4 separate regions of the Homo sapiens genome follow, and all the other regions are reported to be linked to region 1. The links are microRNA targets in miRTarBase. Many come from high-throughput screens and were not tested one by one. Region 1 holds a microRNA gene; each other region holds the end of a gene's coding sequence.
What was found. The annotated mature microRNA hsa-miR-4715-3p reads GUGCCACCUUAACUGCAGCCAAU and lies in region 1 at 2,460-2,482, shown strand. An mRNA with a match to its seed (bases 2 to 7 or 8) in the 3' UTR can be bound and repressed. Matches are read on the target gene's strand: a 7mer-m8 pairs with bases 2 to 8, a 7mer-A1 pairs with bases 2 to 7 and ends in A, and an 8mer does both.

Region 1 (5,092 bases):
AGCTCTTGCATAGTAGGGAACTTTAGATCCGCTCAGAGACCTGCCTTATTTCTGTTTCAGCATCAGATCTGCCTGTTGTATAGTAATCTAGGACTTTTCTAGAAAGGTCCTGGGGTGCGAACGGACCTCAGCGTGGGCCAGGCCAGACTTGACAAGGCTCCCTCCCCAAGTTCGGCGGAGTCCCCGAGATCCCCACTCACCCCTCCCCAGCCTCTGTTTGCTTTGCTTCCCCCAAGAAGTGATGTCTGGCATGGAAACCACTGCTTCTAAAAGAATCCAGTACACGAGGGGTTAACGAAATGGCAGGAAACCCAGGCTGTCACCGCACATTTGAACTGAGTCATTTGTAGAGTTTAAAGCATTTCACTACTTTTATGTCCTGCCTTTTGTTTTTGTATACTTCTAATAACAGTTTAAAAAGTCAGGGGCAGGAAAGGTAAATGTAAGTTCCAAGTTCCATCCTTTGTTCAGATGTGATCTTTGGGCCCTTAGGTGCTCTGTGCAGGAGGGGAGGTGAGCGCGGCCAGGTCTTGGGGGGTGGTGGGCGTGGTCTCGCCCTGCCCGGGCCGCGGAGTGAGTCACCGGGGCTGGGGGGGGAGGGAGGGAGGGAGAATGGAGCAGCGCTGGGTCCGCTGCCGCCGGACGCTCTACACAGTTCCAGTTCTCCAAAACTGGCCGCGTAGAATGGCGCCTGGGGACTCGCCTCGCCTGTGGGCTGGCCCCCAGGGTGTGGCCACATCCCTTTTTCTGGGCCTTTCCCTTCAGGGCTCGGCTGAGGCGGTACCAGACACAGCCGGGGCCTCTCCTGTTGCTTTTTGCCAAGTTGGAAATCAGTTTTGTTCCCCGTACAAAACGCATCCACGCTGTCTGTCTCGGTCATCTCCAGTGCTGCACCTTGGCCCAGGAGCATGGTTGACTCAGAAAACCGAGAGCATTGTGAGAGGAAAGACGAGGCAGGGAGAGAGCGAGCTGGGGAGGCCCCTGTTCCTGCTGGGTGCTCCCCACTGACTCTCTCTCTCTGAACAAGCCAACCATTTTTGAACATAAGTCAAAGCGATATTTTCCAGAATGTCTCATACACATAATGGGCTACAATTGTTCACCTCCACTGAACAGTTTCAAAATATACGTGGCATGTAATTATTTTCTCAAAAAGGGTAATCTTATCGACCTGCGTGATTTAATTATATTTAGTTATGTATGTCTTGTCCCTCATAATTAATTGGTAGAAACCTAGGTAATGGCATTTCATAGTGCCATCGTGTCATTGTCATTATTTTATTTATTCGTGTTGCCAGGACAGACTTTAGTCAAATCAGATGTGTGTGTCTTTTTTAACTCTCATTGTGACTTGCATTGTAATATTTTCCATGTACACATTTATTTTTTTTTTTGGAAAGAAAATCATTGCTTTTAAGCAGGATGGAAAGTTTGATTCATTCCATAGAAATCTGGCTGCTGCCTGTGGTCTTTCACATCCATGGGGAGCATGTCTGGGGGCCAGGAGGCCATGCTGACAGAGACCCTCAGGTTCTCTCTGGCATGGAGGTGAGAGCCAGAGTTGAGCTCAGTCCTGCAGCTGCGCCGTGCTCCTCCTTGATCACGGTTAAATTCCTCCGTTTCTGGTCTTTTCTCTTTTTCTCCTTTCAGTTTCCTATCCTGTGTTAATTCCTCTGTAAAGCGTCTGGCCAGACTTAATGGGAATTCCTTCATAATGCGCCCTTGGGACTTGGAGAAGGCGTAGAAGGAGGGAGGGTGGTGTCTGTAATTCTTGGCTCTGTTCCCAACTACTGCATGCAGTGACATCTAAACTCAGTTCCTGCTTATTCAGTCCTGTACTAAGGATGTCTTTTTATTTTCTCTTGTCTGGTGCTTTGACATCTGGAGCCTTGCTGCCTCCGGAGGGACAGGCCCTCCCAGGGCTAGATAATTCCTAGAGATAGCAAACAGCATTGCTGCAGCATGCCTTACGTGTGCAAGCCACCCAATCCAACGTCCACACCCTCGGCCCCCTCTGTGTTTCATCCACTGTGCACCTGCTCTCATCACCCCAGGTCCAGCCACCAAGCAGCTAGGGACAGCCCTTTGTCCCAGGGTCCACCGAGGTTATTCAAACTAATGGATTCTAAACCTGCTTACCCCGCCTCTCCTGTTCTTTCCCATGGAAGGCACAGAAAAGACTCTCCCTCCTCTCACCAAGGTCTCTGCCTCCTAGGACGCTGGTCTCCCCTATGTTCCCCCTCCCACAGCGGTAGGTGTGGCGAGCTCCTTCTCTGGAGGACTCTGAGTAACAAATCCTCTTTTCAATGGCAGTCCTCTCCTGACCTGTCAGCCCCATAGTGCTTGAATAATAATAGAACTTAAATTGTAAAACATCCCTGGAGCTACTGCCCTCCCTTAGGTCCCATGAGAAAGGGGAATGAAAGTTGGCTGCAGTTAAGGTGGCTAATCAGCTGATGGTGCCACCTTAACTGCAGCCAATTCTAATTCCCCTTTCTCTTGGAAAAAGATGGGGAGATTATTCTGGAGTGAATTGTGGGCCCAGTGTAATCACAAGTCTGTAAAAGTGGAAGAAAAGCGGGCAGAGAGATCCGATATGAATACTACTTAATTTGCCATTGTTGGCTTTGAAAGTGGAGGACCTAGAGTCAAGGAGTGTGGGCGGCCTCTAGGAGCTGGAAAAGGCAAGGAAACATTCTCTCCCGCCGCCCTGCCGAAACCATCGTTTTGACCCAGTAAGATCCATGTCAGATTGACCTCCAGAATTGTGAAATGACAGATTTGTTTAGCCGGTGCAGTGGCACAAGCCTGTAGTCCCAGGTCCTCAGGAGGCTGAGGCAGGAGGATCACTTGAGACCAGGAGACTGGGGTTGCACTGGGCTGTGATTATGCTACTGCACTCCAGCCTGGGCAAGACCCCATCTCTATAAAATGAAATAAATAAAATAAAACTCCCCAAATTTGTGTTACTTCAAGCCACCAAGTTGTCATAATTTGTTGCCGCAGCGGGAAGCTAATACATGTGTTCATTGCAGAGTTTAACAAACAGATACCATGTTTATTTTTTTGTTTGTTTTGCATCCTCATTTTACAGATGATTAAAAAAAAAAAACACTTTTTAGAGGCCAGGTCTTGCTGTGTTGCCAGGCTGGTCTTGAACTTCTGGGCCTCACACAGTCCTGCCTCAGCCTCCCAAGTAGCTGGAAATACAGGCTCTATCTGCCATGCCTGGCAGAAACCACCTTCTTAACTACAGCTTTTTGTGTGTTAATATTGATTAAGATGATTTCCGTTAAAAAATGGCTGTAGGCCAGGTGTGGTGGCTCACATCTGTAATCCCAGCACTTTGGGAGGCCAAGGTGGGTGGATTGCTTGAGCTCAGGAGTTGGATACCAGCCTGGAAAACATGGCAAAACCTCATCCCTACAAAAAATACGAAAAATTAGCTGGGCATGGTGGTGCATGCCTGTAGTCCCAGCTGCTTGCGGGGCTGAGATTGTTTGAGCACAGAAGGTTAAGAGTGCTGTGAGACGTGATTATGATTGCACTACTGCACTCCAGCCCAGGTGACAGAGTGAGACTCTATCTCAAAAAAAAAAAAAAAAAAAAAAAAAAAAAAAAAAAAAAAAAGGCTGTAGCTGTTTGAATTAGCTAGGAATATATGGAATAGCTCCAAATTGCTTAGTGGGATCATGAAGACCCCGTGACCCGCAAAGATCATGATACGGTGGAAAAAAGGTGCTTTTTAAAATTGTTGTTCAAATACTTAGTGATAAAACTTCACGTATTTCTCTAGCACCATATACTTGCCTGAATTTTTATGAATTTGTATGGTACCATTCTTAGCTAGCTCTGTGAAGAGCTTATAAATTCTTCATTGTTCCTGTGAGGAAATGGGAGCCCAGAGAGGGAGGTTTCAGTCCAAAAGGGGCAGAGCCTGGGAGCAGAACAGGTGGCCCTGGGGCTCTGGGGTCCCAAGAGATGTTACTCAGGGCCACTGGCTGAGTGCCTGCGCGTGCTGCTCAGTCAGAGCCTCCTGTGTCCCTTTGATCTTTGATGTGTGTGGATGAGATCAAGTTGTTTAAATATTTCTGGCTTTTGAGAAAGTGTCTAACACCAGATAGTTATCCTGATAAAAGCCAATACCCAGAATTTAACAAGGATAGCTGACAAAGATGCTCTATGGATGCTTTTTAGAAAAATGTATATGTTATTGATCCTTTTTAGTGTAGCTGGTTCATTACAGCCACAGTCTTCAGATGTTTTTGATCTCACACCTCTATCAGTAAAAAGTGGGCATGTGCACCCAAAGTGGGGGTGTGTGTATTTATTTATAAATTACCGGCATGTAATGCATAAATATCTTATATCTATTGAAACATACAAAATATAAATGAAAATAAAATAAACCACAATTACAAACAAAGGTGGTAGTGTTTTTCTGCACTCCTGTGATGGTGTATGTTTTTGTGTGTGGGCATCACTTTAGGCACCACTACCCAGAACATCTTCCAGGAGCTTTATGTTGTGATGTCATTTTAGATCACTGAAGGAACATTGCACGTGTCAGGCACGTGTCCGGCACATGTCAGGCTAGGTGATTCTCATGCTGTCTCTTTTATCCAGGGATGTTTAGGAAGGCTTGAAGAACGCTCAGCAGTGTGGGACCACCACCATGGTCTACCCTCATGCCCAGGGGTGGCCCTTCTGCGCTGAGCATGTCAGTTCTGAAGGTTGAGGCATGAGGGGTGGGGCGCTCTGACTCCTCCACTTCCTGGAAGTGGACCACGTGCTAACTTGGGGCTTGTCACTGTCACACTGAGCAGCTGAGCTGTGCTCCACTGGCACACACAGCCTTATAACCTTAAGCGTGTTCTATCTTGTGCTTTACTTTTAAAAAATTGTTTTATTATGGTGAAATATACATAACATAAAATTAGCCATTTAACCCTTTTAAGTGTGCAGTTCCGTGGAATTCAATACCTTCACATTGTTGTGAGCATCACCGCCGCCCTCCTCTCCAACACTTTTTATCCTCCCAAACGGAAACTTTGTGCCCGTGAAACACTAACTCCCCCTTCCCCCATGCCCA
Region 2 (5,092 bases), not on the chromosome of region 1:
TGCTGGGCAACGCCATCGCCTTTGCTACGGGGGTGCTGTACGGACTCTCTGCTCTGGGCAAAAAGTGCGTCTGCCAGGCCCAGCCCCTGGGCAGGGCCTTCCTCCCTCCGCCCCCCGAAGTCCTTCAGTGAGGAGGATCTGAGAGTGGCCCCTTTTAGCTAGTGGAGACCGAGGCAGAGGTCCCAGTAACTCATTGGTGCCTCCAGGGCTCAGCTCGAGTGGGTGAAGACAGAGGACTTACAACACTTCTGCGTGGCCCAGTCTTGCCCCGTCACGGCCTGCAGCAAGGATAGCAAAAACATGGCTGGTGGGAGCCCCTTCCCCTCCCAGGTCTGCACCGGGCATTGTACTCAGTTGCCACCCTCTCTCCTGCAGAGCCCAGACTGAGGCTGGTTCCTTCGCAGCCCAGCATCCCAGGGAGCCTGGGCCATTCTCAGAGGGGACAAGACAGGCCTTTGCCACCCCAGCAGTTGTCTCTGGGGAAATCAGAATGCCTGCAGGTCACACCTGGGTCACAGGGCAGGAACCGGGCAGTGGTCAGGAGGGCTGTGGGCATGGGGCTGGTGCTCCACGTGACGCTGCCTCTCTCTCTCCCCAGGGGCGATGCGATCTCCTATGCCAGGATCCAGCAGCAGAGGCAGCAGGCGGATGAGGAGAAGCTCGCGGAGACCCTGGAGGGGGAGCTGTGAAGGGCTGGGCGCCCCTCCCTCCCTGTCCCCTCTTCTGGCTCTGTGTGGGTCCAAGTGAGGCCTGGACTGTCCACGCTGAGGCACAGCCTGGAGAGGGGCCTTTGCACGTGTCCCTACACCTGGAGTCCTCTGCTCCTTTCTCCAGACTGGCTTAAGCCAGGAGCCACTGGCTGCTGGTGTGAGGGTCTGGGCTGCTGGACTTGAGGCAGAGCCTGCAGCAGCTGTGTGGACACTACCCAGCCCTACTCCTCTGCTGGGTGGGTCTGCAGATCTCACACCACAGACAGGGCTGCCTGTGACCTGCTGTGACCTGGGAGCAGCTTCCCCTGGAGATGCTGGTCCTGGCTTGAGGGGAGGGGCAAGTGGGACCCTGCCACCTGGGCACTGAGCAGAGGGACCTCCCCCAGCTCTCTTAGCAGGTGGAGCCCCAGGGCCTGGGACAGCCTGCCGCTGCCAGCAACCTCCCACTGCTGCCTAGGGTGCAGCGCCCACTGTCACCCTGCCTTCTGAAGAAGCCCACAGGGCTCCTAAGGTGCACCCCGGTACCTGGAACTGCAGCCTTGGCAGTGACTGGACAGCTGGGTGGGGGATGCTCCCTGCTGGCCCTGGGAACCTTGGACAGGCCACCTCAAGGCCCCTCGGCTGCCCCTCCTCCCTGGGCCTGCTGGGGCCCCTAGGTTCTGCCCATCACCCCCCGCCCCTGCTGGCCTTGGTGCTAAGGAAGTGGGGAGAGCAGGCTCTCCCTGGCACCGAGGGTGCCCACCCTCTCCCTGGTGTGGCCCCGTCAACATCAGCCACAGCCCAGCCCCATTAGTGGGTTAGTGGGTCTGACCTCAGCCCCACTCAGGTGCTCCTGCTGGCCTGCCCAAGCCCTGCCCTCAGGGAGCTTCTGCCTTTTAAGAACTGGGCAGAGGCCACAGTCACCTCCCCACACAGAGCTGTCCCCACTGCCCTGGGTGCCAGGCTGTCCGGAGCCAGGCCTACCCAGGGAGGATGCAGAGAGCTGGTGCCCAGGATGTGCACCCCCATATTCCCTCTGCCCTGTGGCCTCAGCCCGCTGGCCTCTCTGACCGTGAGGCTGGCTCTCAGCCATCGGGCAGGTGCCTGGTCGGGCCTGGCTTAGCCCAGGTGGGGTTTGGCAGAAGCGGGCGGGTGTGGAAGATATTCCATCTGGGGCCAACCCCAGGCTGGGCCTGCGCTGAGCTTCTGGAGCGCAGGTACTGGGTCTTGCTAAGTGAACTGTTTCCCAGGAACACCTCTCGGGCCCATCTGCGTCTGAGGCTGGGAGTGGCATCTGAGGCCGGGAGTGGCATCTGAGGCCAGGAGTGGCAGGCTGGTGGGCTGGGCGTGGGGTTTTCTGGGCCCTGCCCAGTACTGCCCTGGGGACTTGGTGGGCTCCTGGGTCAGCAGCATCCCACCCCTGGGAGTCTGGCCAGCTGAGCCCCAGGGTGGCAGGGGCATTATAGCCTGGTGGACATGTGCCTTCAGGGTTCCTCCGGGGCCACCTTCCTCAGGCCAGTGCTGGGTTCAAAGGGCTGTGTGTGTGTGTGTGTGTGTGTGTGTGTGTGTGTGTATGTATATGTGTGTGGGTGCACACATCTGTCCCATGTATGCAGTGAGACCTGTCTACCTCCCACAAGGAGCAAGGGCTCTGCCCGCCCTCTGCTCATTCCTACCCAGGTAGTGGGACCCCGGGCCCCCTTCTGCCTGGCTTGCCTGCTTCTGCCCTTTCCAGAGGGGTCTCACTGACAGCCAGAGACAGCAGGAGAAGGGTTGGCTGTGGATCAAGGAAGGCTGCCCCTGTACCCTGTGGGGAAATGGTGGGTGCATGGCTGGATGCAGAGGTGGAAGGCCCTGGGCCACAGGCGAGAGTGGGCGTGTCACCTGTCCCAGGTTCCCAGCAAGTCTGCAGCTGTGCAGTCCTGGGGTCCCTGACCCTGTCGCCCAGGGGGCGTGCTGTCCAGCAGGGGCCCTGCCTTGCAAGGAACGTCTCTTCCGGCGGCTGGGCCGCTCCTGCCTGGTCTGGGCTGTGTGTGGCGCCCTTTCCTCCTTGTTTGTTCCTCTGTGTTCTGTGTGCGTCTTAAGCAATAAAGCGTGGCCGTGGCTCGCGTGCCTGCCCTCTGCTCCCTTCTGCCTTGGTGCCTGTGTGTGAGTGTGGAAGCCAGGCAGGAGCCGCTGGCCCAGGAAATAACTACAGGTCCTGTCCCGAGGCTGCCCCCAGCATCCCAGACAAGGAAAGTGACCTGCCCAAGGTCACACAGCTAGAAAGAGCCTGTTAAGGGTGGGCCTCGCAGTGGGCTTCCCCTCACTGCAGCCTTTTCCCTGCCCTGCTTTTGCTATGGATCAGCAGTCAGTGGCCCTGGCAACCTTGGCTGGTTCGGGTCTAGCCTGGCTGCTGTGGGGGCTCCTGGAGTAGACCCCACTCTTTCCTCGCTAGGACTACAGGTCCAGTTCCTTTATTTTTACAAAAGGGTGAACACAGTTTGCAGATAGGAGCTGCCTGTTCCCAGAGGTTGGGCTGGGGCAGGAGGAAGTGGCCACGCCAGGTCCTTTGCCCTGGCTTTTTTTTTTTTTTTTTTGGCAGGGGGTGGGGACGGAGTTTCACTCTCGTTGCCCAGGCTGGAGTGCAATGGCATGATCTCAGCTCATTGCAGCCTCCACCTCCCGGGTTCAAGCAATGCTGCCTCAGCCTCCCAAGTAGCTGGAACTACGGGTGTGTGCCACCACACCCAGCTTTTTTGTATTTTTTAGTAGAGACGGGGTTTCACCATGTTGGCCAGGCTGGTCTTGAACTCCTGGCCTTGGGTAATCCACCTGCTTTGGCCTCCCAAAGTGCTGGGATTACAGGCGTGAGCCACTGTGCCCGGCCTGCCCTGGCTTTTTAAGTCCAGGATGTTCCCTGTGGTGCCCATAAGACTTGTGAGGGCAAAGCCGGGTCTTCCTTGCACAGCCAGATGCCACCAGATCAGAGCGCGATGATATGACTACGTTACTTGGCTGCCTCCAGCCCTGTCCTCTCAGTCCTCCCCGTAGCCTTCTGTGGGGCGTGTCCTTCACGCAAGGGAAAGGGACTAGGCCTGAGGTCACCCAGCAGGGCCGTGTCCCTGGATGCAGGGTTGTATGCACTCCTGCGGCCCATGGCTACGTGCAGCACTGTGGGCTGCCTGGGCTGGGGCTGTGGCTGGACAGCAGTGCTACCTGTCCCGAGCCAGGGGCACCCGCTGCTGAGGCCCCATCACACTGCTCTTCCTGTGCTCTGGCTGGTGGCAGGGATGACTGCTGCCTCTTGGTCCCAGGGTGCAGGTTTGTAGCCAACACAGAGGCCCAGCCACTGGGGGTTTGGCCCCCTCCAGGCGGGGACCTTGACCTAGCGCAAGAAGGACCTTCTCCCCGTGCGGAAGAAGGACTCGATCTGCTCCAGGGACCGTCCCTTGGTCTCGGGCACACAGCAGCCTGTGAACACCAGGCTCACCAAGCAGATGGCCGCGAAGAAGAAGAAAGGCACCTGGAGGCCGAAGGTGCTCTGCGGGTGAAGAGCGGGGCCGGGTCACAGGGAGAAGCTCCAGGGTCCTCCTGCCCCAGAGGAGCTCGTGGGCGCTGCTGGTAGTGACCAGCCCTGTGGGGCCTTCATCTGGTCCTTCCTGTGTTCAGAGACCGCCCCCCCACACCAGGGCTCCCCCACTGTCCCCAGGACAAATCCGAAGTAGCCCTTGAAGTCTGCATCCCGTCTGCCCCTCGGCCTTCCTCAGGGGCTGGGCCCTCTGGCGTCAGCTCAGGTACCCCCTCCACACCCCCTACCCAGCGCTGGCATCCCAGCTGTTCCATGCCGCGGCCTGCAGGAGGCCCGCCCTGCAGCCTGGTGGGCACGCAGGTTCTTCTTGGACCCTCTAGGCTGATGGACTCACTCTGGGTTGCCTGCCCTCCCCCAACCCCCCTGCCCTGACCACTGCAGGGACAGCTTAGGCGCTGGCCTAGGCTGCCCTAGCCAGCTTCTCCCTCATGGGAACTTACTCTGGGCCTCACAGATTCTGGCTGGTCACAGGGCCCGTAGTTTTGAACCAGGAGGCAGGGGGAGTGGGTGGGGTTGAGGGGGGAGTGTGGCTGCTGCTGAGACCCAGCGCCCAGGAGGGCGGGAGATGAGGCACGGTGGGGAGGTGGCTTCCGGGGCCCCTGGCAGGGTCCTGGGCCATGTCCTGCCCTGGCCCAGGAGGTAACCTGACTTCCCAGAACAGTTGCCTACGCCCGTTCCTGTTTCTTATAATGAAGAGCGTTTGCTAGGCTATCACGTGACCACTCTGGGGTCTCTGAGTTCAGGGGGTGTGTGCTCATCTCCTAGGGTCACTGAGAGTTAGGGTCCTGACAGCAGGCCTTGGCACAGCCCCTGGCACTGAGAAGGGTCCTGG
Region 3 (5,092 bases), not on the chromosome of region 1:
TGGCCAACAATGTGGGGTTGGTGATCCCAACAATGTGGGATGTGGGATTACCACAAATGACTTAGTCATGTGCTGGAGAAACAAAATTAGGGCTTCACAGCAAGGAAGAAGGGAGGAATGAAGTATCCTACTGTTATGTATACTTGTCTTTCTTCCTGTACATACACTAAAAAATGTTCAGGCCCATATGAAAAATGTATTTATTTCCCAAAGAGAATCAGCCAGAATCTCATCCAAATACTCTATCCAGCTTCATATCTAAGATCTCTGGTGGACTTTTTCTGCCCGTGGACGCCGCTGAAGAAGCATCGTTAAAGTCTCTCTTCACCTTGCCGTCATGTCTAAGTCAGCGTCTCCAAAAGAGCCCGAACAGCTGAGGAAGCTCTTCATTGGAGGGTTGAGCTTTGAAACAACTGATGAGAGCCTGAGGAGCCATTTTGAGCAATGGGGAACGCTCACAGACTGTGTGGTAATGAGAGATCCAAACACCAAGCGCTCCAGGGGCTTTGGGTTTGTCACATATGCCACTGTGGAGGAGGTGGATGCAGCTATGAATACAACGCCACACAAGGTGGATGGAAGAGTTGTGGAACCAAAGAGAGCTGTCTCCAGAGAAGATTCTCAAAGACCAGGTGCCCACTTAACTGTGAAAAAGATATTTGTTGGTGGCATTAAAGAAGACACTGAAGAACATCACCTAAGAGATTATTTTGAACAGTATGGAAAAATTGAAGTAATTGAAATCATGACTGACCGAGGCAGTGGCAAGAAAAGGGGCTTTGCCTTTGTAACCTTTGACGACCATGACTCCGTGGATAAGATTGTCATTCAGAAATACCATACTGTGAAGGGCCACAACTGTGAAGTTAGAAAAGCCCTGCCAAAGCAAGAGATGGCTAGTGCTTCATCCAGCCAAAGAGGTCGAAGGGGTTCTGGAAACTTTGGTGGTGGTCGTGGAGATGGTTTCGGTGGGAATGACAACTTTGGTCGTGGAGGAAACTTCAGTGGTCGTGGTGGCTTTGGTGGCAGCTGTGGTGGTGGTGGATATGGTGGCAGTGGGGATGGCTATAATGGATTTGGTAATGATGGAAGCAATTTTGGAGGTGGTGGAAGCTACAATGATTTTGGCAATTACAACAATCAGTCTTCAAATTTTGGACCCATGAAGGGAGGAAATTTTGGAGGCAGAAGCTCTGGCCCCTATGGCGGTGGAGGCCAATACTTTGCAAAACCACAAAACCAAGGTGGCTATGGCGTTTCCAGCAGCAGCAGTAGCTATGGCAGTGGCAGAAGATTTTAATTAGGAAACAAAGCTTAGCAGGAGAGGAGAGCCAGAGAAGTGACAGGGAAGCTACAGGTTACAACAGATTTGTGAACTCAGCCAAGCACAGTGGTGGCAGGGCCTAGCTGCTACAAAGAAGACATGTTTTAGACAAATACTCATGTGTATGGGCAAAAAACTCGAGGACTGTATTTGTGACTAATTGTATAACAGGTTATTTTAGTTTCTGTTCTGTGGAAAGTGTAAAGCATTCCAACAAAGTGTTTTAATGTAGATTTTTTTTTTTGCACCCATGCTGTTGATTGCTAAATGTAATAGTCTGATTGTGACGCTGAATAAATGTCTCTAAAAAAAAAAAAGATCTTTGGTGGAATCCGTAGGCTGCTTTTTCATCTGGTGGCTGTGGCTCTCTGGTGTTTTGTCCTCAACAGCCACATCTAATATGAGCACTGGGAAGAAGACTCTTTCTAAGGCTGCTCAGCTTTAGAGTACATTTCTTGATGGTGTGAGCTTGGTGTCCTGTCTCAGAGTCACTAGTTTCCCAGCCCGAAACAGTTGTGTCTCAATGCCCTCCATCCTGCCTTTTCCACCCGGCCAATTACACACCATTCTAGGTCTGTTTTGTAGCACTCCACTTCCAAATACCAAATTGTCTATCAGTTTGGATTCTTAGTCGTAAGCAACAGAGATGGATTCTGGTTTTCAGCATAAGATAAATTGTATTAGAAGAATATTGTGCTGCTTGCAGAATGGCCAAAAGGACTAGAGAATCAGCATCAGTCTGAGCCACACGGCTGGGAATAAATCCTGGAACCATACTGCATAACTGGTCGGGTGAGGAGATTGTAGCCACTGTTGCCAAGCACTGACACACTGCTTTGTAACACTATCTGCTGCTTTGGGAATTTGATCTTGACACATGTGCTACTGCATCTGGAGAGGATACACTAAGGTCCTTCCTTGATTTGTTGTTGCTAACCAGTTACCAATTTTAAAGTATGTGCAAGTTCAGCTTAAGTTGTTTGGCATTTTCAGCTTTTATAGAGGGAGACTGGCTCAGTGGGAAGACTCAAGGAATTCCCCAGACATAAGAAGGAGCTGAATTCTAAGTAACCCAAAAGAAAGACCTACTTAAGGACAAATCCAGGTTTTGTGGGGCCAAAATTTACACAATTTGTTGGGGTTGTGGGAGTGGGGAGGGGATTTATTTAGGAAAAATACGTACAAAATTATATTAACAAATTAGATAGGGTTTGAAGGGGCTTTTGCAAATAAACACCCCTGAAGCTGTACTTTCCAAATCACTCCGCTAGATCTGATTTCAAGCCCACTCTGCTCAGCACAGGTTATCTCATGCTGGTTACCTCCTATATGTTCTTCAGGCTTTGGCTGAGACATTACTTACTCTGAGCTTTCAAAATCTTCTGACTGCTTTCACAGAACCCCTTTAATCTCTCCCATTTAGACATATATGACACTATAATAACTGCCTGTTGATATGCGTGATTCCAACACTAGATTATTAAGCACCAAGATTGCAGTCATTTTAGTATCCCCAGTCCCTCGCATATCTATACATAGGAGGGATTCAATATTTATTAAGTGAGAAAACTACATATTCTCCTTGCCTTTTTTTTCTTTCTTTTTTGAGACAGGGTCTCGCTCTGTTGCCCAGGTTGGAGTGCAGTGGCATGATAACAGCTCACTGAACCTCGACCTGGGCTCAAGCAATCCTCCCACCTCAGCCTCAGTACACTCAGTGGACTACAGGCATGCACCACCACATCTGGCTAATGTATTTTGTAGAGAAAGTGTTTTACCATATTGCCCAGGCTGGTCTCGAGCTCCTGGGCTCAAGGGATGCTCCTGCTTTGGCATCCCAAAGTGATGGGATTACAAGTGTGAGCTACTGCGCCTGGCCTCCTTGTGCTCATGTTCTTATGTTGCTTACCACCATCCATATGCTGATGACTATCAATTCTTATCTATAGCTCTAAATGTGTTTTAAAAAAATAGCTTTAGGCCGGGCGCGGTGGCTCACGTCTGTAATCCCAGCACTTTGGGAGGCCAAGGCGGGCGGATCATGAGGTCAGGAGATCGAGACCATCCTGGTTAACAAGGTGAAACCCCATCTCTACTAAAAATACAAAAAATTAGCTGGGTGTGGTGGCGGGTGCCTATAGTCCCAGCTACTCAGGAGGCTGAGGCAGGAGAATGGTGTGAACCCGGGAGGCAGAGCTTACAGTGAGCCGAGATCACGCCATTGTACTCCAGCCTGGGCAACAGAGCAAGACTCCATCTCAAAAAATAAAATAAAATAAAATAGCTTTATAGGGCTATAGTTGACATAAAGCAAACCATGCACATTATTTAAAGTGTACAGTTTGAAGTGTTACATATGTATACACTCGTAAAATCATCACCATAATCAAGATAGTGAACATACCTATTACCCCAATGTTTCCTCATGCCCCTTTTATTCTTGAAATTCCACCCTGCTCTCCAGCCCCCACCCCCACCCAGTAAACCACTGATTGTCATACAGATGAGTTTTAAAATTTTTCAGGATTTTATATAAATGGAATCATACAAAATGTACTATTTTTGTCTGATTTTTTTCACTTAGCATAATTTTGAGATTCATCCATGTTATAGTGTGTAGCAATACTTCATTCCTTTTATTGCTGAGCAGTATTCCATTGTATGGCTATACTGGCTATACTGCTGTTGTTTTTTGTTTGTTTTGAGATGGAGTCTCGCTCTGTCGCTCAGGCTGGAGTGCAGTGGTGTGATCCTGGCTCACTGCAACCTCCACCTCCTGCATTCAAATGGTTCTCCTGCCTCAGCCTCCTGAGTAGCTGGGAATATAGGTGCGTGCCACATTTTTTTGTATTTTTAGACGAGACAGGGTTGGCCAGGCTAGTCTCAAACTCCTGATCTCAGGTGATCCACCCGCCTCCGCCTCCCAAAGTGTGGGATTACAGTCATGAGTCACTGCACCTGGCCAGCTGTACTACTGTTTATCCATTCACCTATTGATGTACATTTGGGTTGTTTCCAGTTTTCAACTGTTAACCATTAAAACTGCTATAAACAGACACAGACATTTTGTACAAACATTGCATGAACATGTTATTTCATATCTCTTGGGTGCTAATTGTGTAGCAGTGGTCTAAGTCATTTTATGGTTGTGCCTTTTTACATTCCTACCAGTGGTGTATGAGTCTTCCAGTTGCTCTACATCCTTGCCAACATGGTCAGTCTTTCTCCTTTTAGCCGTTTAAATGGGTGTGTAGTGGCATATGGTTGTGGTTTTAATTTCTATTTCCCTATTGACTTACAGTTTCTGAGTTTTGAGACATCTTCATATATTCTGGATGCAAGCTCTTCATCAGAGATGTGATTGCAAATATTTTCATAGTGTAGAATCTTTTAAATTTTGGTGAAGTCTAATTTACAAATTTCTTCTTTTATGGATCATGCTTTTGGTGTGCTAAGAAATCTTTGTCTAACCCAAGATCACAAAGATTTTCTTTCCTCTAGAAGTTTTATAGGAGTTGTAGCCCCATAATCCATTTTGAGTGAATTGTTGTACATGGTGCAAAGATACACACTGAAACTCACTTTTTGGCACATGTATATCCAGTCTGTTTTAAAGTCTCTCCTTTTCAACTGTTTTTTCTCCACTGAATTACCTTTGGACCTTTGTTAAAAATCAGCTGTCTACATATGGTATGGGTCTATTTATGGATTCTCTGTTCCATTAATCTGTCTATTTTTGTGCCAATACCACAAGGTTGACAGGTCTTG
Region 4 (5,092 bases), not on the chromosome of region 1:
TGCCCTCGTTTTGTGGCATCCTTTAGAGGAGAGCACGGGTCAGGGTGCAGGTGGATGCCCCTGACAGCTGCCCTGGATGGACCCCTCCTTGGCACTTTGCTTTTGCGGAGGGTGGCCAGAGCATGGTCTGACAGCACTAGCAGTCTGGGCTTAGACCCTGCTGTCTGAAGAGGGCCAGGAAGTGGCCACAGCTGAGCACCAGGAGGCCTCAAGTCCAGCAAGCCCCCCATGGGAGGAACAGCAGAGGGAACTCCTGGGTTGATTGGCGGGTGATCCTGCTCATCCTTAGGTTGCAGGATTGTTCCCCCCAGGTGGAGAGCTTGAGTCACATTTAGTTTATTTGTAGCGTCTTTTGGCAAAGACACTTAAGATGGACACAGTCTGTCTTGCTGAAACGTCCTTTTATTAAACACAACAACTTTTAGTTTCAGCGTTGTGGTAATGGAGATGCAGGAGAGTCTGTGTATAAACTGCAGTCTCCTTCATGGAAGCCTGAGCTTCACTCCTCTGTGCCATTGCCATCTTGAAACCTGGCTGTTAATATTGGCATTGCCACTTGTCAGTCAGACCTGAGGAAAACAGGTTCATGGGCCTGAGTCCTTAGCTTGTGTAAGAGGGAGTTAAAACAGATGTGTGCTAACCTTCTAGGTCTAAAGTGTATCTAGTCCTGGGTATAAAGCTTGTCCTGGGTATGATTTTCATCCAGTCTTTATACAAAAATACTCATTGAGTTCCTGCAGATAACTGTGCTGGGCTTAAGAGAAAAGAGATGTAACAGGGATAACTGTGCTGGGCTTAAGAGAAAAGAGATGTAACAGGGGTAACTGTGCTGGGCTTAAGAGAAAAGAGATGTAACAGGGGTAACTGTGCTGGGCTTAAGAGAAAAGAGATGTAACAGGGATAACTGTGCTGGGCTTAAGAGAAAAGAGATGTAACAGGGTCTCTTCGCTGAGCAGACCTGAGCCATTAAACAGATTGTTACCCAGTAGTTGAAATTCAGAATGGAAAATTGGTTTTAAGTAATGAACATACTTTATTTTTTTCTCCTCCTTTTAGATGGTGAAGAAAGCCAAGACTATGATGAAGAATGCTCAGAAGAAGATGAATCGGTTGGGGAAGAAAGGGGAGGCGGATAGACACGTGTTTGATATGAAGCCCAAGCACTTGCTGTCTGGGAAGAGGAAAGCTGGTAAAAAGGACAGGAGATAGTATCCGTTTGGTTGGCGTGGCTTCGCTAGAGTGTTGCTGTTTATTTCCTGGTTTGGCACAGTATGGTTTCATGAAATTGGAGCTCTGTATAAACTGAAAAAGACAAAATAAGTAAAGCACTTGTTGCTTTGCTGAAAACTATGGTTAACCCTATATAGGTGTGGGAAATTTTTGTCACTGCATAATATTACAAATATTTTGAGTAGACAGTGTTTCCACATTTAATGGAGTATCAGTTGCTTCAGATTTTCAGAACTGGGAAGATTTACTGGTTTAACTAGGTTGTTTTTGATGGAGAAAAACCTTATTTTCTTTTGTAAGAGCTGGGAGCAAACACGTTTATGAGTGTGTCGGAATCCCGTGCTTAAAATACGCTCTTAAATTATTTTCTAGTCTTATTTTACAATGTCTCATTGTAGTCTGTCTTCAACTATTTTATCCAAAATAAACCTCCAGAAGAAAGTAGTTTTCATTTACTTAGCTCATGTTTTGGTTTAGTTATAGTCGCTATGGATTTGGCCAAATAAAAAGGCAAACAACATGACATTTCTATTTTGTTTTAAAGCAAAAATACTTTTGGGGGAGTAAAATGTTGCTGGAGGCATTAGGCAATTAAATATGGGCATTCTCCTATTTCTGTGGCCCGTCCCTGAAGTTACATGTTCAGTAAAACACAAAAACACCGCCAATGCCACCTCAAAAGCACCTGCTGGGGAGCGTTGGGGTGAAGAGCTGTGGGGTCGGAGGGACCTGCCCAGGGGTCCGTGTGCTCCTGGAGCTCCAAAGACACACAGGGGTCCAAGAGCCACCACGGATAAGTTATCAAGTCACACAATCAACATTATAGCTGAGGAAAGGACTTTAGTTAATCACACTTCTGGATTACATGTGGCAATTTTAAAAATTTACCAGGGCTGGGCTGGGCGCAGGGGCTCAAGCCTGTAGTTCCAGCACTTTGGGAGGCCGAGGTGGGCAGATCAGGAGGTCAGGAGTTCGAGACCAGCCTGGCCAACATGGTGAAACCCCATCTCTACTAAAAATACAAAAATTAGCCATGCGTGGTGGTGGGCATCTGTAATCCTAGCTGCTCGGGAGGCTAAGGCAGGAGAATTGCTTGAGCCCAGAGGCGGAGGTTGCAGTGAGCCGAGATCGTGCCACTGCACTCCAGCCTGGGTGACAGAGAGAGACTCCGTGTGAAAAAAAAAAAAAAAATACCAGGTCTGGTTTTTGAAATTCTTTCTCCGTATTAAACACCAAAACTTAACATATAGTTTACTTTGTGTTAAACAACAACAGTATGGCCGGGCGCGGCAGCTCATGCCTGTAATCCCAGCACTTTGGGAGGCCGAGGCAGGCGGATCACGAGGTCAGGAGATCGAGACCATCCTGGCTAACACGGTGAAACCCCGTCTCTACTAAAAATACAAAAAATTAGCTGGGTGTGGTGGCGGGCGCCTGTAGTCCCAACTACTTGGGAGGCTGAGGCAGGAGAATGGCTTGAACCCGGGAGGCGGAGCTTGCAGTGAGCCAAGATCGCACCACTGCACTCCAGCCTGGTCGACAGCGAGACTCCATCTCAAAAAAAAAAAAAAAATACCAGGTCTGGTTTTTGAAATTCTTTCTCCGTATTAAACACCAAAACTTAACATATAGTTTACTTTGTGTTAAACAACAACAGTATGTTTTAAAGCAAGTATGTCTTTATTTGTAAGCATATTACTGAAACGATCAAATGAACAGAAGTGGATAAACGTCGAGTCACTTGGCTGAGACCATACGCATCTTCCGTACTGCTTGTATTAGGATGCAAGATTGAATGTGTCTTTTTTTTAAAAATGCAGCCTTGTGTTGCACTCTGAAATAAGTGATTTAAAAAGAAAAACATGATACAGAGATCCCATCCTGACCTTGGAGGCTTGGATAAAGCTGTGGGGAGACAGCCTCATGGTCCAGCCAGGCTAGTCCGCCTGCTTCAGGACTCTCAAGATCTCCCCAAGACTTTCAGGATCAGCTGCTGTTAATCAAACAAGTGCTTATAAAATGGAAATTGGGACAAAGGAAATGTTAAATTTCCTCCCTGCAACCAGGCAGATGAGAAATATGGAAATAAGGAAAAGGGAAAATGAAGATATGACAAAGTTGATGAAAAGGTTGAAATAGTGATTTATACATGATGGGCAATCAAGTGCCCCTTTTGCCCTGTTTTTTGGAGAGGGTGTATCATTGCCTCAATGGTGCGTCTGCCTGCACTGAGGGCATTACACATGGCTGACTCGACCTCCCTGCCTCTCACACTCTGTGTATTTTGTGAAGCTCCACAAACGGGGTCACGTCATCCAGGTGAGGCCACCACCGGTACAGAAACCTCTCGGCAATGGTTCTTAGCCAGGGGGTGACTTTGACTTCACCCCTCGCCTCCCTCTCCAGCAGCTCCCACAGCTCCTCCTGGGACAGGTAGAGGATGCTTTTCGTTTCACTGGGATCCGGGTTCAGAGTGACGTTTTTCCTCACAAGCAGAAGGTAACAAATTTCATGCTCTCCCCAAATTCTGTCTGATTTTGCCTTGTGGTGATAGATTGTCATGAACACAATGTCCTCTGGAGAAATCTATTGACAGAAATTGGTGCAGTGTTAACAACGCTAATGTAAAACACAGAATTTACAGAAAAATAGAGAAAATAAACACATTTGTTTTCCTCAGAAAATGAACACTTTCTTTGGTAATTGATAATTTCCAAAACCTCGATTTTAGCTAAGTAAATTTTTGTGGACTCAAGTCTGAATGATAAACCGGCTTTGGTTTCTTGGTTCCAGTAAACCTGTCTGTCTTCATTTAAAGAACTAACCGTGTCACACACACATCCTCAACAGAAAACCCCGTAGAAACCGGCTAGCGTTGTCAGGAGAACATCCATCCTCTCTTAAACGTGTTCTTGAGTGGATGAAGGTAACACATGCTCACAGGATCCTGGACATTCTTTCTACACTTGAATTTCTTTCTTTTTTTTTTTTTTGAGATGGAGTCTCGCTCTGTCGCCAGGCTGGAGTGCAGTGGCACAATCCCGGCTCACTGCAACCTCTGACTCCCAAGTAGCTGGGATTACAGGCGTGTGCCACTACGCCCAGCTAATTTTTGTACTTTTAATAGAGACGGGGTTTCACCATGTTGGCCAGGATGGTCTTGATTTCTTGACCTTGTGATCCGCCCGCCTCGGCCTCCCAAAGTGATGGGATTACAGGCGTGAGCCACCACGCCCGGCTTGAATTTCCTCTTCGGTGTGTGGTCGACAGATTCCTGCACAGTCTCAACCCTGCCTGGGACACATAGGGACTCACACTGCCCCATCCACAGCTACATTCACAGCCCCATTCACAGCCCCATTCACAGCTCATTCACAGCCCCATCCACAGCCCCATCCTTCATCCTCATGGTGCTTCATGAGGTCAATGGTGTAGATCCAGCCTGGACTTTGTTCACCGTCTGCCCGCTGCCAACCTGGACTCCCGTGGACACAGCTGAGACTGGATGCTGTGTGTACCTGCTCCCCAGGAATTCCCAGCTCTGCTTGCAGACGCCTCTGGGCTGCCCTCCTCACTCCGATGGCATCCTTTTCTTCCAGTTCTGCTGGGTTGTATAATGGGTGGCTACTACAGGAGTCGGTAAAATACCCTGGAAAAAATGCATGTGGGAACATCCCTCTTTATTCCTGAAAAGTGAATATATTAAATACAAATGCAGATGCTTCATGTAAAACCATCATCCGTCATCAGCAGAAGACAGCCTGGCGGGGGGAGTGGGTTTGTCATGGGCTCTCAGAGCAGCACTCGCCTCCAGCCTCCACGGCTGTGGGCTTGGTGAGGGTCTTCCACATGACCACCTGGC

Region 2: miRTarBase lists SLC2A6 as a target of hsa-miR-4715-3p. Seed matches in the 3' UTR shown: 7mer-m8 at 3,645-3,651 and 7mer-m8 at 3,408-3,414.
Region 3: the mRNA of HNRNPA1L2 is a reported target of hsa-miR-4715-3p. Seed matches in the 3' UTR shown: 7mer-m8 at 1,393-1,399.
Region 4: miRTarBase lists GTPBP4 as a target of hsa-miR-4715-3p. Seed matches in the 3' UTR shown: 7mer-A1 at 2,098-2,104.

What each region holds. Positions count from the first base shown.
Region 1 is chr15:25,846,148-25,851,239 of GRCh38, reverse strand. MIR4715 (microRNA 4715) reads left to right here and starts at 2,415; the gene lies at 2,415-2,493. All of the region lies in intron 1 of ATP10A (ATPase phospholipid transporting 10A (putative)), which reads left to right. RefSeq lists a silencer at 467-516 and enhancers at 797-856, 907-956.
Region 2 is chr9:133,467,965-133,473,056 of GRCh38, forward strand. It overlaps SLC2A6 (solute carrier family 2 member 6), which reads right to left. Exons shown (of 10, transcript NM_017585.4): 10 at 3,130-4,212. The coding sequence ends at 4,057. CACFD1 (calcium channel flower domain containing 1) reads left to right here. Exons shown (of 5, transcript NM_017586.5): 4 at 1-64; 5 at 599-2,884. The coding sequence ends at 689. LOC124902295 (a long non-coding RNA gene) reads right to left here and starts at 603. Exons shown (of 2, transcript XR_007061831.1): 1 at 508-603; 2 at 1-278. RefSeq lists enhancers at 641-800, 881-930, 1,001-1,050 and a silencer at 1,511-1,630.
Region 3 is chr13:52,642,156-52,647,247 of GRCh38, forward strand. HNRNPA1L2 (heterogeneous nuclear ribonucleoprotein A1 like 2) reads left to right here and starts at 276. Exons shown (of 1, transcript NM_001389320.1): 1 at 276-1,618. The coding sequence starts at 338. The coding sequence ends at 1,300.
Region 4 is chr10:1,016,019-1,021,110 of GRCh38, forward strand. GTPBP4 (GTP binding protein 4) reads left to right here. Exons shown (of 17, transcript NM_012341.3): 17 at 1,057-3,914. The coding sequence ends at 1,209. It overlaps IDI2 (isopentenyl-diphosphate delta isomerase 2), which reads right to left. Exons shown (of 5, transcript NM_033261.3): 4 at 4,749-4,879; 5 at 2,892-3,816. The coding sequence ends at 3,499. Among named protein-coding and RNA genes, the nearest start is that of IDI2-AS1, 4.1 kb to the right of the region's middle.